Regions from separate parts of the Homo sapiens genome. Here region 1 is linked to region 2. A link means that fine-mapping ties the variant in region 2 to the expression of a gene that starts in the linked region. Tissue or cell type: whole blood. Region 2 holds a variant in brackets; the other region holds the start of a gene. All regions are shown on one strand. Distances are from middle to middle.

The links. PIP is the estimated chance that this variant, and not a neighbour inherited with it, causes the effect.
Region 1: PEPD starts here. The variant in region 2 is fine-mapped to the expression of PEPD in whole blood (GTEx, PIP 0.94). The same link has a PIP of 0.9 or more in esophagus muscle.

What each region holds. Positions count from the first base shown.
Region 1 is chr19:33,517,262-33,525,359 of GRCh38, reverse strand. PEPD (peptidase D) reads left to right here and starts at 3,569. Exons shown (of 15, transcript NM_000285.4): 1 at 3,569-3,616. The coding sequence starts at 3,600. It overlaps LOC105372370 (a long non-coding RNA gene), which reads right to left and starts at 3,426. Exons shown (of 3, transcript XR_935918.3): 1 at 3,346-3,426; 2 at 1,864-1,939. RefSeq lists enhancers at 2,342-3,304, 3,305-4,268 and a silencer at 3,360-3,559.
Region 2 is chr19:33,389,780-33,397,877 of GRCh38, reverse strand. It overlaps PEPD (peptidase D), which reads left to right. Exons shown (of 15, transcript NM_000285.4): 13 at 6,399-6,583. Among named protein-coding and RNA genes, the nearest start is that of CEBPG, 20 kb to the right of the region's middle. RefSeq lists enhancers at 956-1,785, 1,786-2,615, 4,603-5,367, 7,539-8,098. The variant T/C (reference allele first, on the strand shown) is at 4,443.

The sequences.
Region 1 (8,098 bases), 130 kb before region 2:
GGGCTCCTGTGAGGAGGGGGGTTGATGGATGGTGGTGACAGCTGGGGTGTAGGCCTGGAGGAAGGAGCAGGCCACACAGGCCTTTGGAGTGGGAGAGCTGTGGCTACCTCTGCAGGCCCTGCAAAGGCCCAAGGCTGGGATCTGCCAGAACCAGGATAGAGAGACGGTCTCCTGGGCATTCCACACCCATCACGCTCCTTGCTTTCCCACTTGGGAAGACACTGGGTTGCCATATGCCACCCTGCCCCTATCTCACACCCACAGTCCCCTCTATTCTTCCTCTTCTGTTTATTTGGTGCTGGCTTTCTGCATCCAGTCTTCTATTCTCAGCAAAAGCAAACAATCGCAAAACACCCAAATGCCATCTTGTGTAGGGCTTTGACCATCTGAGGCTGGCGGCCCCGTGCAGTGGCTTTATTGGCTCTTATTGGCTCTTTTCAGTTCTCTCTGCTAATCCTCCTGAGCTCCTGCTGGAGAGAGGGGTTTGGATCGGCAGCTTGCAGCTCAGAATCCCCCAGGATCTCCCCATTAGCCAAAAGCAGAACCCTCGAAGCCCCGTTCTGAGGCCCTCCCAGATGGTGGACTCCCCAGGGACAGTGTGGAGGGCTCCTCTACCTCTGTCCCCAGACCAAAGATCCTCTAGGCAAGGGCAGGGTCTGGATCCCTGGCCCTCACAGCATGGCCAGTCCTGGAGTGGCACTGTGGGCAACAACTGGGTGGTGCAGGGCAGAACCAGCATCCAGGCTACCTCCAGTGCAGTCCCACAGAGCCTCTGGTAGACCAGTGCCCTCAATCCACAGCAGAAGATGGACAGGGCTCTTCCCGGGGACCTCCCCTTCATGGCCCAAGGGTGGCTCATGAGTCAGAGCCTAGCAGGCCGCCACATCTGGGCCTGCCGTCTCCAGGCAGCCAGCTGTCAGCAGCGTCCACGGAGTTGCAAGAGTGGGGGCTAGATTGTGGGGAATGGGTGGAGGAGGGAAACCTGGCTGGACACAGTGTCCCGGGACACAAGAGGTGTCTTCCCAGGGTGAAGCTTCTTTTGCAAGGCCTGACGGGAGTTGGGGGGGCCCTTCTGGAGAATAATGCTATGCTGGCTACCGGGCTACCAGGCTGACCGAGTGCAGACATCTACCAGCCACCTGCAGGGCTTGACGAGAGGAGACTGTTTCGGCCACAAGGGCCTGTGACCTCGGAGGCAATGCCGCATGAGAGTGCTGCCTGGCGCGCTGCCTTGGCTGATTTACACACTCCCACTTCGACTCTCTAAAATCAATCTTCCCCCAATTGCCTCCTGGCTCCAGCAACGTCCTGGGTCTGCCCTGCATAAGTAACTAAATGGTCTTCTCCCATATTCTGGGCGGCTTCTGGAGCCCCTGCCACAGCCTCTGATGGGGAGGGGTGAGGGGTGAGGGGCAGCCCTGCCGGAGCCCCTGATGGGGAGGGGAGAGGGCAGGGGACCTGGGTGGGCAGGGGTCATGGGCAGTGCCTCCATATTACTGTCCACAAACAAGGGAGCTCCACTCAGTTGGTGGGTGCCTTCCTTCCATTATTTTGTGTTTGGGATATTGACTTCTTTTTCATATTAGTAAGCACTCAGAGCTGGCAGCTGGCTTAATTTTGACATATTTTATGTCAAAAGAAATGGTGGGAGGCAGGTGCAATGAATGAGCTGGGGGGTATGTTTTCCTTCCTTGAAGGCGCATGGAAAGCTCATTCTGCTCACCCTTTGTTATTATGTATTTTTTAAAGCGCCACTTACTAGGGAGTTGAGTTTCTTAAGCTGAAGGCGGACCTACTGCTTAACTAGGGGTGTTAGAAGTTCTCAGGGGCCCCTAGGCCAGGCAGTGGGGTGTGAATCCTTACCTCTGTTCTTCTTCCTGGAAACTGGCAAGAGGGTGGAGAGAGCTCCTCTTGGACCTTGCCTGGAGGTCAGGGACCCCTGCAAATTGTCCATGTGTTGTGGGAAGGGGTAGAAGGGATGAGGCCCCCCCTCTTCCATTAGCTCTCGTTTTCCTTATCTGGGACCGGGAGGTGGGAGGGGCTGTCTGGAGGGGCCACATTCCTCCTGGCAGCTTTGGTCTCTGGCTGTGCCTGCAGGTTTGAGTGTAAAACCCTCTAGCAGCCCTGTGAGGTGGCCCCATTAGCTCTCTCCTGACAGATGAGGACAGCAGGGATGGTACTGGGCTTCCAGGTAACTGTGCCACGTGCCCTTCACTACCCTGCTTATGGCTGGCTCCCTTGCTCCTATTTAAGGGGCCTATTCTCCTCCCTGCTTCATGGGGACAAACAGAAGCTGCTTCTCCAGTCATAGCCCCTGGCTCCCACCAGCCTGGCCATGGTGACCCACATCCTTGTTTCGATAAAGAAACAAGAAGCATCCCCCAACCCACAACCTTTGATCAGAAGCCACTTCCAGCTGTGGGACAGCTGCAGGGTGGGGTCAGGAGCCCCACACGCCTATCCTGGGCCACCCATCCACCTGTCCACACACATCTGTACACCACACACATCTGTACACCCTTGGCGCCAGGGACGCCCTCCCCCAACAGTGTGGGGCCCCCTTCCTTCACAGGGGCAGTGAGGTCACTCCTCAGGGTATGGCTTCATGAGCTCAGCCTCTGTGTGAGCACTCTCTGGCCTCAGTTTCCTCATCTGTATAATAGACTTAAAGATAGTCTCGACCTCATAGGGCTGTGGTGAGGTTTCTATGAGCTCACATGTGCAACGCATTTGGGCCGTGCTTGTAATGCCCTGACTCTGTTGGCAGTAGGGAGGGCAGCGTCTGCTGCAGGGTCCCTACACCTTCTCTGCAGGACTCTGCACCCAGTACCAGTGCCCAGTGGGGCAGAGGAGTAAGCCTTCTGGCAGACTCTCCCTCCTAAACCCTTCTCGGCTGTGCCCACTTCTCGCCTGCCCTCCTCCCTGGCTTCCCTTCCTCCAGCTTCTCCATTCTGCAGCCCAGGAAACCTAGAAAAGATCCTACCAGACTTAACTCATAGGCCCCACAGTGGAGGCCCCGCAGGGTCTGGCCCTTGCTTCCCTTAGGCTGCCCCTCTCTCGCGCACATTCTCCTGGACGCTGCACATTTAGAGTCCTCCAGTTGCCCCACGGCCTTTGCTCAAGCCCTTTCCCTTCTTAAACAAAAATCGCCACCTCTGCCCCGACCCTAGCCTGGGTCAGTCTCCCTCCTCTCCTCCCACGTGGTTTCTTTATTCCTATGTGTTCTTCTCCCGGGTGGGCTGGTACGCCAGATCGGGGACTGAACCAGAATCAAGATGTCCTCTGCTTCAGGACCTCCCTCCCACCACGAAAAGGCTGCAGATGCTGCCCGCTAACCCGACCTACTGTCTGCAGCCGGCAGCCCGCTCATTTATCCTGGCCGAGCTCTTGGGCCCCCAATCTCCGGGAGCCCCGCCCCATCGGGGCTCCGCCCTTCCCCAGGTACCGCCCCTTCCCGTCCCGTGGAATTTGGCTCTGGAGGAGGTGGGTCAAGGACTCCATGCCCCGCCCCCTGCCCCGCCCTTACCCCGCCCCATGCATTGGCACCCGGAGGGGCTCAGCTGACGCCGCACTTCACGTGACGCCGGTGCCGGGCGAACATGGCGGCGGCCACCGGGTGAGTGCTGCGCCTCCCTCGCTCTTTCCCGCTGGCGTGGAGAGGGGCATGGGTGTCCCGGCCGGACCGCGGGTGAGAGCGTCAGCCGGGGTCGCTGAATGCCGCGGGTAGGCGCCTCTTCCCGTTGGCCCGGAGTCCCAGCGCCGGTCGGCGAGCTGCACGCTCCGAGTCAGGGTCAGCGCGGGGGCCGCAGCTCCTCTCCACCCTCCTGGCTGGCTCCGGCCCCACCTGCCCGCGTCTGGCGGCCCCACCGTGTGCGGCTGCGGTGGGGGCTGGGGTCGACACGCATGTTCGCTGCCAAGACCCCCGGGTAGGAGGGCGGCGTTGCGAGGACCCCAGGGACCCGGGCGCTTCCCGGAGGAGGCGGTATTCGAGACGGACTTGGAATTCCCTTTTCCCAGCAGGGCACTTCCCCATTTCTTTCAGGGGCCAAATGTCACCCCCTCAGGGAATCCTTCTCTAACCATCTATCCCACTTTTTGTGCCCTCATCATCACCTGATAAACTATATAGAGCATTGTTTGTACTTGTTCTTTATCTTCTCTGCATTTAGAGTGCAAGGGCAGGTATGTTACCTGCTTCTCAGTAGCCCGGTGCCTTGCACACAGTAGGTGCTCCATACTGGGCTAAATGAAAGAAAGCTGAGTGGTCGTAGTGGGAGGAAGGGTGGACAGATGGGTTCACCAGAGCGTTGGGCGGAATCTCCCAGATAGGGAGCATCTGAGCCCAGGGTAAGGGACAAAGGTTGAGAGTTCAGAGTGTTCTGGGGACAGGGGTGCATGCCTGGGGCTGGTTGGAAGGTGTGGTGTTCCAGGTGGCGGCTTCAGACTTTGCCCTGATGGGCTGGAAGGGTTTTGTTACAAGCTGCTTGATCTGTTTTTTAAAGATTAGGCTCCCCTGAGCTATGTGTGAGTTCAATGGGAGAAGGTGTGGGTCTGGTGGTACAGTGGGGTAGAGGGGGCATGGTGTAGGAGGGAGCAGTATTCCAGATGCCAGGTTGGAAACTGAGGTCAGAATGGGGGATCTAGTGGACTGAATGCATCTCTCTTTTTAAGATACAGGGAAAATGGCAACAGAAAGTGGGTTCTAAGTTGGCCCCCAAGGTTGAGGGAGCTTAGAGCATACAAATCAAATATTTTGTGGGCACCTGCTATATTCCAGGAATAGCAGTGGGTCTTCCCTTAAGGTACTCACAGGCCACTGGAACAGATGGACACATGGGACTCTGTCATCCATCTGCTTGCCGTGTGGTCTTGCCATTTGCAAAGGAGGGGCATGGACTCTGAGCTCAGATAAAGTGTGGGAAGGCTTCACTTCCTGGGTGACTTTTGTGCTAGTCCTTCAGCAATGAGACTCCCTTCAGGTAGAGAACAGTGCAGACAAAGTCTCAGATGGGTGTCAAGGAACTCAGGGTCAGATCCTTGAATCCAGCCTGTGACCCTTTTAAAGGGTAGACTGAGCAGGCTGGTGCCCAGCTGTGGGTGTGCTGTCTCTCTGGTTAGGCTGGCTCGGTGCTCACAGGGAGTGCCAGGGGTTGCATTTGGGTTCAGGATTCCAAGCTGGCCTGAGACCTGCTGCTCTCCTGAAGGAACCAAGCTGATGTCTGGACGGGAGCAAGTCTGGAACTGACTGGATCCTGGAATGAGAGCTTTTCTTTTTCTCTTTCTTTTTTTTTTTTTGAGACGTAGTTTTGCTCTTGTTGCCCAGTCTGGAGTGCAATGGCATGATGGCTCACTGCAACCTCCACCTCCCAGGTTCAAGCGAGTCTTCTGCCTCAGCCTCCTGAGTAGCTGGAATTACAGGCGTGTGCCACCACACTCAGCTAATTTTTTGTATTTTTAGTGGAGATGGGGTTTCACCATGTTGGCCAGACTGGTCTCGAACTCCTGACCTCAGGTGATCCACCCGCCTCCGCCTCCCAAAGTGCTAGGATTACAGGTGTGAGCCACCACGCCTGGCCCCAGAATGAGAGCTTTTCTAGCAGAACCGATTCTCTGGGCCACCACACAGGGTGGGTGAGGGAGGCAAAACAGAGTGGCAGGTCTTAGAGAGGTCTGCTATTGAGAGGGTGTGGGAGCTTCCAGAGCCTGGCAGTCTCCTTGGGAAGAGCCATCCCAGTCTGGTATGGGGCTTTCCCATGTACTTTGAGCCTGAGGTTGACCCCAGTGGCTTCCTTTAGAGCAGAATGATTAAGTGTGTTTCCCGCAAAGCTCAGCTCCTAGCCACACTCACAGAACAGATCATAGAGTCAGGCATAACGAGGCATGATGCCAGCAAGTCACGGCCATTGCCGTGGGCTCACTGGGAGTTGGGTTTGGTTGTCTGTAGAATCCTACCAGAGCCTGGGACAGAGGGGGTCCATGAGAGTTCCAGGTGACTGGGGTGTGCCCCATATGATTTGGGGAGTAGGGGAAGCCCTAAACTAGCATCTCAGATTTAATTTGAAACTCAAGAATCTACTCTGAATGCATCTCTCTTTTTAAGATGTGGGGTGTTTCAGGGTTGATCCTACTTTCTCTTGCTAGCCTGGGTGTAGGCTTCAGGTTGAGACAGAGTGCGCTGAGGTCACCTCCCATCCCCTCATGGAGAGGGGTCCCTATCCCATGGCACTTGGTGGCACTGCTGCTGTCTCCTTAAGCAATGCTTTGAGCTTTCCACAGACAGGATTGATAATTTGAAATCTGTCAGCTCCAGCCAGACCTGTCTGCATCTGCTCTCCCACATGGCTTTTTCCATTCCCTTCTTCCCTTGCACACTCACCCAACTAGCCCTGGAATGTTCTTGTCCTCTATATGATTCTTCACGTATTTGCAGGCCCAGCTCAGATGGTTCCCTTTCCCAGAAGCCTTTCCCAGCCCTCGGGTAAAGGTTTAGTGCTCAGAACTCCAGAACACTCAGTTTTCTCCCCAGCAGTACACTTTTACACGTCTGCCCATTGTGGGTTAGGAGTTGCTTCCCTTCATGCCTCTCCTAGCATCCTTAGAACCCCTGGGGTTCTTTTGTATCCGCAGGGCCAGTCTGTGGCTGCCCTGTGATTGGTGCTTGGTGAAATGAATGAAAAGGGGATTTACTCTAAATTAGTCCAGCATCCCATCCTGCTTTCCTGGGAGACTCCCAGTGATTGAGGGAAGGAGTCATGGTGGGGAATGGGGACAGAATTCCGAGGGGTAGGATGAAGAAATAGCCTTAATTCTTTAACTGAGTGGCTCCCAGGAGCTGTTGCAGAGCCAAAAAGAGGCAAAGGTGAACTGCCCTGGACGTGTACCCCTGTTGAGCCGTAGGTTACACTGGAGTCAGCATTCTTCTGGAGAGTCTTCTGCAGAATTCACATTCTGGGTCAAGAGCCCAACCCCACAATGTGAACCTTGTGCTCCAGGAGCAGAAGACTCAGGCCGACTGGGGGCTAGGGACGGGTGGGCCTATGGGAGGCAGGCTGGCCACTGAGTATCCCTGTGCCTTCCCTGGCTCTTCCCCAGGTCCTGACTCCACACAGCTGTCTCTTGGTTTCTGTGTATGCTTGGCACCCCTATCCGCCCCAGGAGACAGAGGTGCAAGGTGGAGGTTGCTGGCCAGTTGCCTCGAGGTCCTGTTCCGCCGTGGCAACCCTCTCCAGCCTGGCGCTTACGGTCTGGTGCCCAGTGGGCTGCCTGAGCATCTGTCTGGTGCCTGGCCCCACGCTGGAGGCTGAGGGGAGGAGGTGGCTGGTCCTTGGCTGGCCTCTCCTACTGGGAACTTAGCGGTGTGACCCTGTCTAGAAGTGGCTCCACATTTCATTTTTTTTTTTTTTTTGAGAGGGAGTCTCACACTGGAGTGCAATGGCGCGATCTCGGCTCACTGCAACCTCCGCCTCCCGGGTTCAAGTGGTTCTCCTGCCTCAGCCTCCCGAGTAGCTGGGATTACAGGTGCCCACTACCATGCCTGGCTAATTTTTTTGTATTTTTAATAGGGATGGGGTTTCATTATGTTGGCCAGGCTGGTCTCAAACTCCTGACCTCGTGACCCACCCACTTCAGCCTCCCCAAGTGCTGGTATTACAGGCGTGAGCCACCGCACCTGGCCAGTGGCTCCACATTCTAGTGCAGAGATCTTTCCTTGTCTGTGCGGTAGACCCCACGGGCATCAGTGAAACCTACGTACCATTCTCGGCATCAGGTTTTTTTTTGTTTTTTGTTTTTTGTTTTTTTTGAAACGGAGTCTTGCTCTTTCACCCAGGCTGGAGTGCGGTGGCTTGATCTTGGCTCACTGCAACCTCCGCCTCCCAGATTCAAGTGATTTTCCTGCCTCAGCCTCCCGAGTGGCTGGGATTATAGGTGTGTGCCACTATGCCCAGCTAATTTTTGTATTTTTAGTAGACACAGGGGCTCACCATGTTGGCCAGGTGGTATCGAACTCCTGACCTCAGGTGATCTGCCCATGTCGGCCTCCTAAAATGTTGGGATTATAGGCATGAGCCACCACACCTGGCTGGCATAATGTTTTTAA
Region 2 (8,098 bases):
ATGTGGCACTGAGAAAGGCCTGAGCTGGGTCTCCCATCCCGTGGTGCTGCCTGGTTCATGCTGACTCTTGGGGCAGGCACAGGCCTCAGGCCTGGCAGGGGTGTCTGGGGCCACAAGGCCAAATCCAGCTAGGCTCATCTCAGACCATGGGAGGCAGGTCCTCCCCCAGCCCCGCTCCCACCCACCACTGGGCTTTGCTGCCCAGACCCAGCCTGGGGTCTGGAGGATCCCTGTGTAAGGGAATGGAGCAGCCCCCCAGCAGCCCCCCCACACCTACCACCCACACTGAGCTGTGTGGCATTGGTGTCCCCCAAGGGCAGAGTCGGACTCCATCTGGATCACACACAGTGAAGGCCCGTGGGGCAGGCCCTGGGCCCACAGAGCTGCCCTCCGGATGGGGCAGGTCGCCTCCCGTAGCATCGAGGAGGCCGTGGCCAGGTCAGCCCCCTGCCTTGTCCCAGCGGAAATGCCCTGGGTTCGTGGGTTCAATTCCTGGGCCAAGACAAACACCCCACCGAGACTGCCCGACTGCATCCTGTGACCTTCCAGGGAGAGTAAATAAAGCAGGAAACCCCATAGCTAAGCCCAAAGGAGAGGCAGGAAAGAATGGTCAGGACCCTGGGGGGTTGAGGAATGCAGGCCTTGGCCCCTGATCCTAGGGCTGGTGGGGGAGCATTCCTCACTGTCATTCACAGTCGGCGAGGAAGGAGGCTGCGCTCGCTCAGACGGAGACCCTACCCTGGCGGCTGGGAGTCCACAGGCGGGTGGCAGGGCAGGCCCAGCAGCTGCAGGACCTCGGGGAGTGCCATGCACGGGAGGTTGGGTGGGATCCAAGCTCAGCGCGGCTCCTGTGTTGGGGCAGGCTGCCCACCCCATGCAGACCCCTGCATGCATGGTGAGGGGAATGGGGGGAGGCGCTGCTGGGACGGATGGGCGAGCCCGGCAGGGTGGCCCTGAGTCAGGGTCTGCATTGGCACAGCCACAGCAGGAAGGCTGTTCCTAGAAGCAGCACAGCTGTCCCTGTCCCGCGGGCTCAGTCCCTGCAGCCACCCTGGAGCTCCAGAGGACCCCAGCACTGAGGGCCCCATGCCCTCCGCCTGCAAGCCCCAGAGCCTCCTGTAGCCTCGCCTCCCAGCCCCGACCCAGCTCCCTCTCTCCTCACCCCCCCACCCTCCCTGGCCTCCCCGCCTTTCTCTACTCTTTCCTGTGCTCACCCAGGAGCCTCCTGTGCCCCTGTCACTGGGGGCCCAGCTCCTATCAACCTGGAACAGCAATGGTGGCCCACGATTCATGAGCTCTTTTGTGTTTCGTTCCCCCGCTCCTGGCTCTGTCCCTGCCCTCAGGGTCCTGGCCACTTGTGAGTGACGGGGGTGCTGCCAATGTGAGGTCAGAGGAGGGGAAAGAAGTGGCAGGAAGTGTCCCCACCTCCAAAACAGTCCTGACGGGGCGAGAGAGGGGCACTGAGGCGCGGGATGACCAGGTGGCTGGGAGAGGGGCCCAGCAGCACCTGCCCCGGCCCACCTGGCATGTGTCTCCTGTGGCCCCGTGGTCAGGGGGCACCTCTGCCAGCTTTGCTCCCCTCCCAGCCAGCGCCAGGGGCAGGGGCCCAGCAGCTAGACTTCCTGTCAGTCCTCATCCTCCGAGACGGCGTGGAGTGCAGGGCTCAGGCAGATAGGCATGGCGGCCATGTGCCACCCCAGTCATAGATACCCTCTGCGGCAGGTGCCAGGACGGGGAGGACTGTCTTCAGTGTGGGCACCATGTCCACCCCTCCTGCCGGCCGCAATGGTGAGCCAGTTCCTTGGCCTCTTCTTACTCCTCGGGGCACTCTGCCAGGGTGTGGGGGAGGAGACTCGAGGAGCAGCCTGGGCCAACACAGCACCCTGCTCTCACGCAGGGTGAGTGGGTCCCCAGAATTTCTGGCAGCAGATGGGGTTCTTCTACTCACGTCCCGTGCAGGGTGGGGTGAGCTGGAGGTCCTCAGCCCCGTGCCAGCTCAGCCAGCCCTCAGGGCCTGCCCTGGGACCCCGGCCGGAGCCTGCTGTCCTACACCCCTAGAGCCTGGCTCACACCCATCCATCCCGAGGGCCATGTTCCACAGATGAAGTGCGCTCTTTGTCTGGAGGCAGCTCTGAGGATGCTGCCTTTGTAGCTCGGTCAGGCCCGGGAGCCCCCTGGGGCTGTCACACTCCGGGTAGGAGGCCTCGGGGCTGTGATGGATGCTTTGAGGCTCCAAGGAGCTGGCCTGGGCCCTAGGCCCAGCAGGAGCGGGTGCTGCCTGAGGAGACCAAGTGGACCCAGAAGACCACTCAGGGGCTACGCTGGCCACACCTGGGGCCTGGGTGGCAGGAGCAGCGGGGCTTGTTCCTCTGAGCCCTGCCATTTCATGAGGCGCATGATGGGACACTAACCTAGAGGCCACCCTGCCCGTTCTAGGGTCTGAGTACACAGAGGAGTGGGGGATGGGGCACAACACTGGCTGCAGGAGAGCCATGAGAGAAGCTGGGGCTCCTCTCCTTCCAGGCGTTTACCAAGCATCCGCAGCATGCCAGGCACAGAGCAGAGTACGGGCACCACCCTTGCAAGGCCCAGAGGTCATAACCAGGCCCAGCTGTGCTGTGTGTTCCGTGAATTCTCAAAGTACAGGAAGGGGTAATCAGAGAGGGCTTCCTGGAGGAGGAGCCTCACCACAGAGGCCCACAGGAGGAATGGGAGCACATCTGGGAAAACGGGCTTGGAGGAGGTGGCCCCAGCTAAGGAAACAGCAGGTAGGGAGGGCCAGTTCTTGGGACCCGTGGCCTTGGTCCAGCCACCCCACCCAGGAGTGGGTGAGGGAGAGGCTGGAGACCAGGCCAAGCTGAGAACCTGGGCTTCGTCCGGGGCCGGGAATGGCCCTGTTTGCCCCGTTCGTTCTAAAGAGATGGCCCAGGCATCCAAGGGGTGTGCAGCGGAGGAGGGAGCCAGGCAGACTCCAGGAGGGGTGGGGCAGGTGCAGGGGTGCTTCGGGAAAGCCAGAATGAGGTTTGGTGCTTGCTGGGGGTTGGGGCACGCAGGGCAGCTGGTGCCCAATTTCTGCTGTGTGATTCTCAGTGTGGCATCTGGGTATAGGCTGGCTAGGGGCCGGGGGTGCCTTCCAGCCTGGACTAGAGAGCTTGACGGTGTCTCCAGGCTGCCAGGGTGGGAGGAGCCTGAGAGTGGGCCCAGGCCAGCAAGGGAACCCTCAAGTTGGTGCCCACCCTGCCAGCCTAGTGCAAGGACAGTGACCCTCACACACTCCAGGGGCCCCCGCCCAGGCGGTGGGTGTCGTAACCACCATCCGGGCCAGAGGCTGGGGCCAAGTTGCTGGAGGTTGAATCACTGTCACAACCCTAACCACACACAGGCAGAAACTCCCTGCTCCCGGCCAAGAGAGCTGTGTGCAAGGCCTTCCCCGAGGGTGCACAGGCAAGGAAGACCAGCGGCGCCAAGGGGACCCCCGGGCCGGCACATCTGGGCGGCGCCGGGCCTGCCCCCGGGAAGGGCCACCGCAGAGCATGATTTATACCTGATTCCCGCCCTCTGCGGAGGCTGGGCCAAGAACGTAGCCCACTGCTGAAGTTAGCCTGGTTGGAAAGCTGGCTGCACTTCCCGGGGCTCCCCTTTGGTGACCAGAGAAGGGCGCGTCCGAGAGGAAGCAGTTGAGCTGGGCTTGGGGCACGAGCCACTCACAGGAGGCCTCCCAGCCCCATGTGCCAACTTTGCAGGCTGTTGGGAGACCTGAGGGGCACTCACTTTATGCCAGGCCCAGCGGTGCCCTCGGGAGACCCCCACCCTCGGAGTGAGACATGAGAAGCAAACGAGCAGATCCGTCCAGGGGACGGCTGCAGGCTGGATGGACCGTGCAAGGAGAAATCACCAGGCCTGGGACAGCAAGGCAGGAAGGTCTCCTCTGAGAGGGGACAGCTTTTATGCAGAGACCCCTTGGATGAGGCATCACAGGTCAAGGCCTGGCACAGGCCATAGCAAAGGGCCTGAGGTAAAACGGCCTGTGTGCCTTGGGGTGGTCTGGCCTCTGGAGGATGCAGCAGCAGAGAGGAAGGGCGAGGTGGGCCAGGATTGTCCGGGCTGGGTTCTCAGAGAAGAGCAGCAGCAGAGGCTGGGCAGGCTTGGCGCACACCCCCAGGAACAAGTGAATGTCAAGTGTGGAACCAGGGCTGGCTGGTCATGCGCGATGGAGGAATGGTGGCCAATGCCACTGTCCGGGGTGCTGCCTCCAGCCCCCAGGTGACACAGAGGCTCTGAGAGCAACCCCCCGGGGCCTGCCTTGTGGCTGTTTGTTTGTTTGACCAGCGGCAGCTGAGGCTCACGGAGGTGGGGCTGTTTGACCAGCGGCAGCTGAGGCTCACGGAGGCGGGGGAGCGGCCAAGTGGGCTGCAGTTATCCAGGTGTCCTTTTCCGGGATG[T/C]TGTGCCCCTCAGAAAAGCCAGGGGTGCGGGCTGGGCCAGCCAGGGGTGTGTGTGCCCAGGGCTGCCCCAGATACAGGGCAGCTGCAGCCAGAGTTGCCCCAGGTCTGCCCGGGCTCTCCCCCACGCCAGACCCCGGGCTCTCCCCCACGCCAGACCCCAGACCCCGGGCCCTCCCCCACGCCAGACCCCAGACCCCAGACCCCGGGACGGCCTCCCCGACGCCAGACCCCAGACCCCGGGACGGCCTCCCCCACGCCAGACCCCAGACCCCGGGACGGCCGCCCCCACCTCAGCCCCTAGGAGGCTGGGCTGATGGGGAGCTGGGCTCTGAGGAGGATCCCTGCTCTGTGTGGGGGGTGGGGGCAGGTCTGGGCATCTCCACCCCTGCCACCCTTAGGCTGCTGCCGTGGCTGGGGCGCTGTGCTGTGAATGGCGGGCAACAGCCATACTGCCTGCCCAAAGCCGTGCACCCCCAGCCCGCCTGAGACCCCAGCACCACAGTGGCCAACTCTGGCACTTAAAGGGGTCCCAACATGAAGGACTTGTGCCCAGTGTGTCGGGGGTGATGGCCTGTGTCCCAGTGTGGACTCTCATCCCTGTTCGCCAGCCGAGCCCATCATCTGCCCTCCGCCAGCCACAGAGGTTCAGAACCCTGCTTCTCACAGCCCAGCCCTCGCCAGCTCAGGGTCTCCCCGGCCCCTCCCACAGCAGTGATCGGGACCATGCAGAGCAGGCTCTGGCTCTGCGCCAAGGCAAGCCTGGCAGGGAGGCCCTCGGGAGCCAAGGTCACTCCGCCTGGTGGGGCTGGACCTCTCCAGGAGGTGCCGCAGGGACTTGCTGGGCGCCCTCTCCAGCCAGTGAGCTGCACATTGATAGGGGCCCCCCGCCACGTGCCTGGCCAGAGTGTCCTGGGGCCCCGGCCTCTGCCAGCACGTGGCCTGCCCAAACCCAGCCCCCATGGGGCCAGGGCAGGAGGCCTCACCGGCCTCGAGTCCTTATCTGGTGCTCAAGCCAAGTCCAGCAGTGGAAGCTACCATGAGGAGAGGCTGATGCTGGGATTCCACAGAGTCCGGGGATGGGACGGGCGCACCCGTGGGCTGCTGAGGCTCTACGTGGAGAGCTCTCTAAGGGCCTCCTTCCTAGCGGCCATGCTCCAGAGCCCCACAGAGCCTGTGTGGCCCCCAAAGCTCTGTGCTTAGGAAGTTCTCTCTTTGGTGGCCTTTGCCCCACAAACATGCGGCAGAGATGAGTTGGATTTGAAGCCGGGAGTTGGACATCTGGCTCCCCTGGAGATGGTGCCCCTGCTGTTGGCAGGCGGGGCCCCGAACCCCTGCCAGCCAGCTCGTGGGGCCGTGCCAGCCGCACCTTCTCCCCAGAAACCTTTGCTCCCTGCAGCAGCTCCAGGGGTGTTTCATCCCCATTCTGGGATGTGCAGGGACCCCTCTTTTCAGCCTCGGGCTTCCCCACTGCACCACAGCAGCAAAACCCCATCGGAGCTCTGAGCCAGGGTTTGGGTCTGAGCCTCAGGGCCAGAGCCCACAGAGTCTCCTGGTGTCTGCTACTGGGGAGACGTGCATGTTTCTCCTGGTGCCCAGGGATTTGGCTAGGTTTCCCTGGGCCCAGAAGCATAGGCTGTTCAGGGTGGACACACCATGGGCTACAGAGTAGACCCAGGCTGGGCCCTTGGCTACAGGTGACAGGAACCTGCCCCTAGAGGCAGAATGGAGGGACAAGAAGGGTCCCGAGGGCCAGAGCTTTTGCTGGGAAAGCCCAGCACGGGGGGCCACCCTAGTCCTTGTCCCCCTGGGCCCCCGATGTAGTACCCTTGCCCCCTCACCCCCCACCTCAGGCCCTCCCACCACAGCCAGTGTGAGGGCTTCACATCTCCCAGCCCCTGGCCCTGCGGTGTTGGCTGCTGGGCTCTGTGGCTCACGGCAGCTCCCTCTGGCCCACAGGTGTCTGGTGGCCTGACATGCACCGCCTGGCTGACCGCATCCACCTGGAGGAGCTGGCCCACATGGGCATCCTGAGCGGCAGCGTGGACGCCATGGTCCAGGCTCACCTGGGGGCCGTGTTTATGCCTCACGGGCTTGGCCACTTCCTGGGCATTGACGTGCACGACGTGGGAGGCTACCCAGAGGTCAGTGTGGACATGGCAGGCGGAGTGGCCTGCCCATCAGCTGCCGCTGAGCCTGACCCCCAGGGCAGGGTGGGACTCTAGGAGGCAGCAGGCGTGTATTGGGATGGCAGGGATGGGCCCCATGGCTCCCTGTGGTATACGGAGGCCATGAGGAGGGGGGAATCGGGACCCTGGCCAAGACAGGGGTGCATCTGTGAGCATTCCACAGAACTGGACATAGAGGCGGTGCTGTCTGCCTGCTGGGCCCAGGTGTCACCTGTCCAGAAGGTGGCACACAGTCAGGATACGGTGCATGGGGCCCCACAGGACAGTGGTGCTAAGGACAGGTCTTCGTGATGGAGCTACGTGGCACCCCTCACGTCCTGCCGCCTCTGGCTTCATTCAGACCTGGGGCGTGGGGAGTTGATGAGGCCCCACCCACTGGCGACTCACCCTGGCCCCTCACAAACCCGGAGCAGCCCTGCTCTGCCGCTGGTTCGCCCTCTCCTCCCAGGCCCCTGGGCCGCACACCTGGGACCCTGCAGCCTCCTCATCCCCAGGCATTCTGGGGCCCGTTGGCAGATAAGGGAGGCTGGGGGCCATCTCCAGACAAGGTTCCCCGGCCCTCAGAGGACCACCCAGAGGGTAAGTGAGGCTTGGGGAGGCCCAACCGGGCAGGTGGCTACGGCCTCTCGGCTGGGCGGCTGGGGCGCTCCCATCCCTGCCCTTGGCGGGCTGCCCAATGCAGGGGGCTGATTGTGCAATCGTGCACGCCCTGGGGCCCCCCAGCCAGTTAGCCAAGACAAGGCTCAGCCTCTTGGCTGCAGGGTGTTTTGAAAGCACTAAGAATGATTTTTTGGCAGGGTGGGGGCAGTGGGGGGAATTGCTTAAGAGAAGCATTATTATTCAATTATTTTTTTCCTCAAGTGTAAACAGTTAAATTTGGAGAAACAAAATCAGTTTTAATTTCCTAATGTCTATTCATCCCATTGTGTGCAGGGAGCCAAGAGCTGGGCCTTCCAGACATTGTTAGCTGAGGTTCGTTATTCATTAGTCGCCAAAGCGCTTTTTTTCCACCAGCAAAAATTGGCAGCAAACTGTTTTCATCTTTTCCAGTAAGCACCTCTTTGTGCTCAGAGTCTATTCTTCTGACAGATAAACATTGTGGAAAAAATATGGCTTTTCCTATAAAAGTCATTTGTTTTATTTCAGGCCTGCAGACACATCTGGGGCTCCTCTGCTTGGAGCCCAATAAAAGTTGAGGCCTTGTCAAGCCCTGTGCCCAGGCAGAGGCGAGCATGGGCGCGGTGAGGGCAGGACCCCTCCCCACCCCTGAAGGCTGCGCTTCCTGGGCCACAGGGGCTCGTGCCCTCCCCACATGGCTCTGCGCTCCACCCGGCCCAGCCCTTCCCATTCTCTTATGGCGCCTGCGCCCTGTTCTCAGCAGGTCCCCCGGGCAGGCCCCTAGAGCCAACACCCTGAAGGGGCAGCTGCGCCACTGGGCTGAGGCAGGCCTTGCCCTGTGCCCGCTGGGGA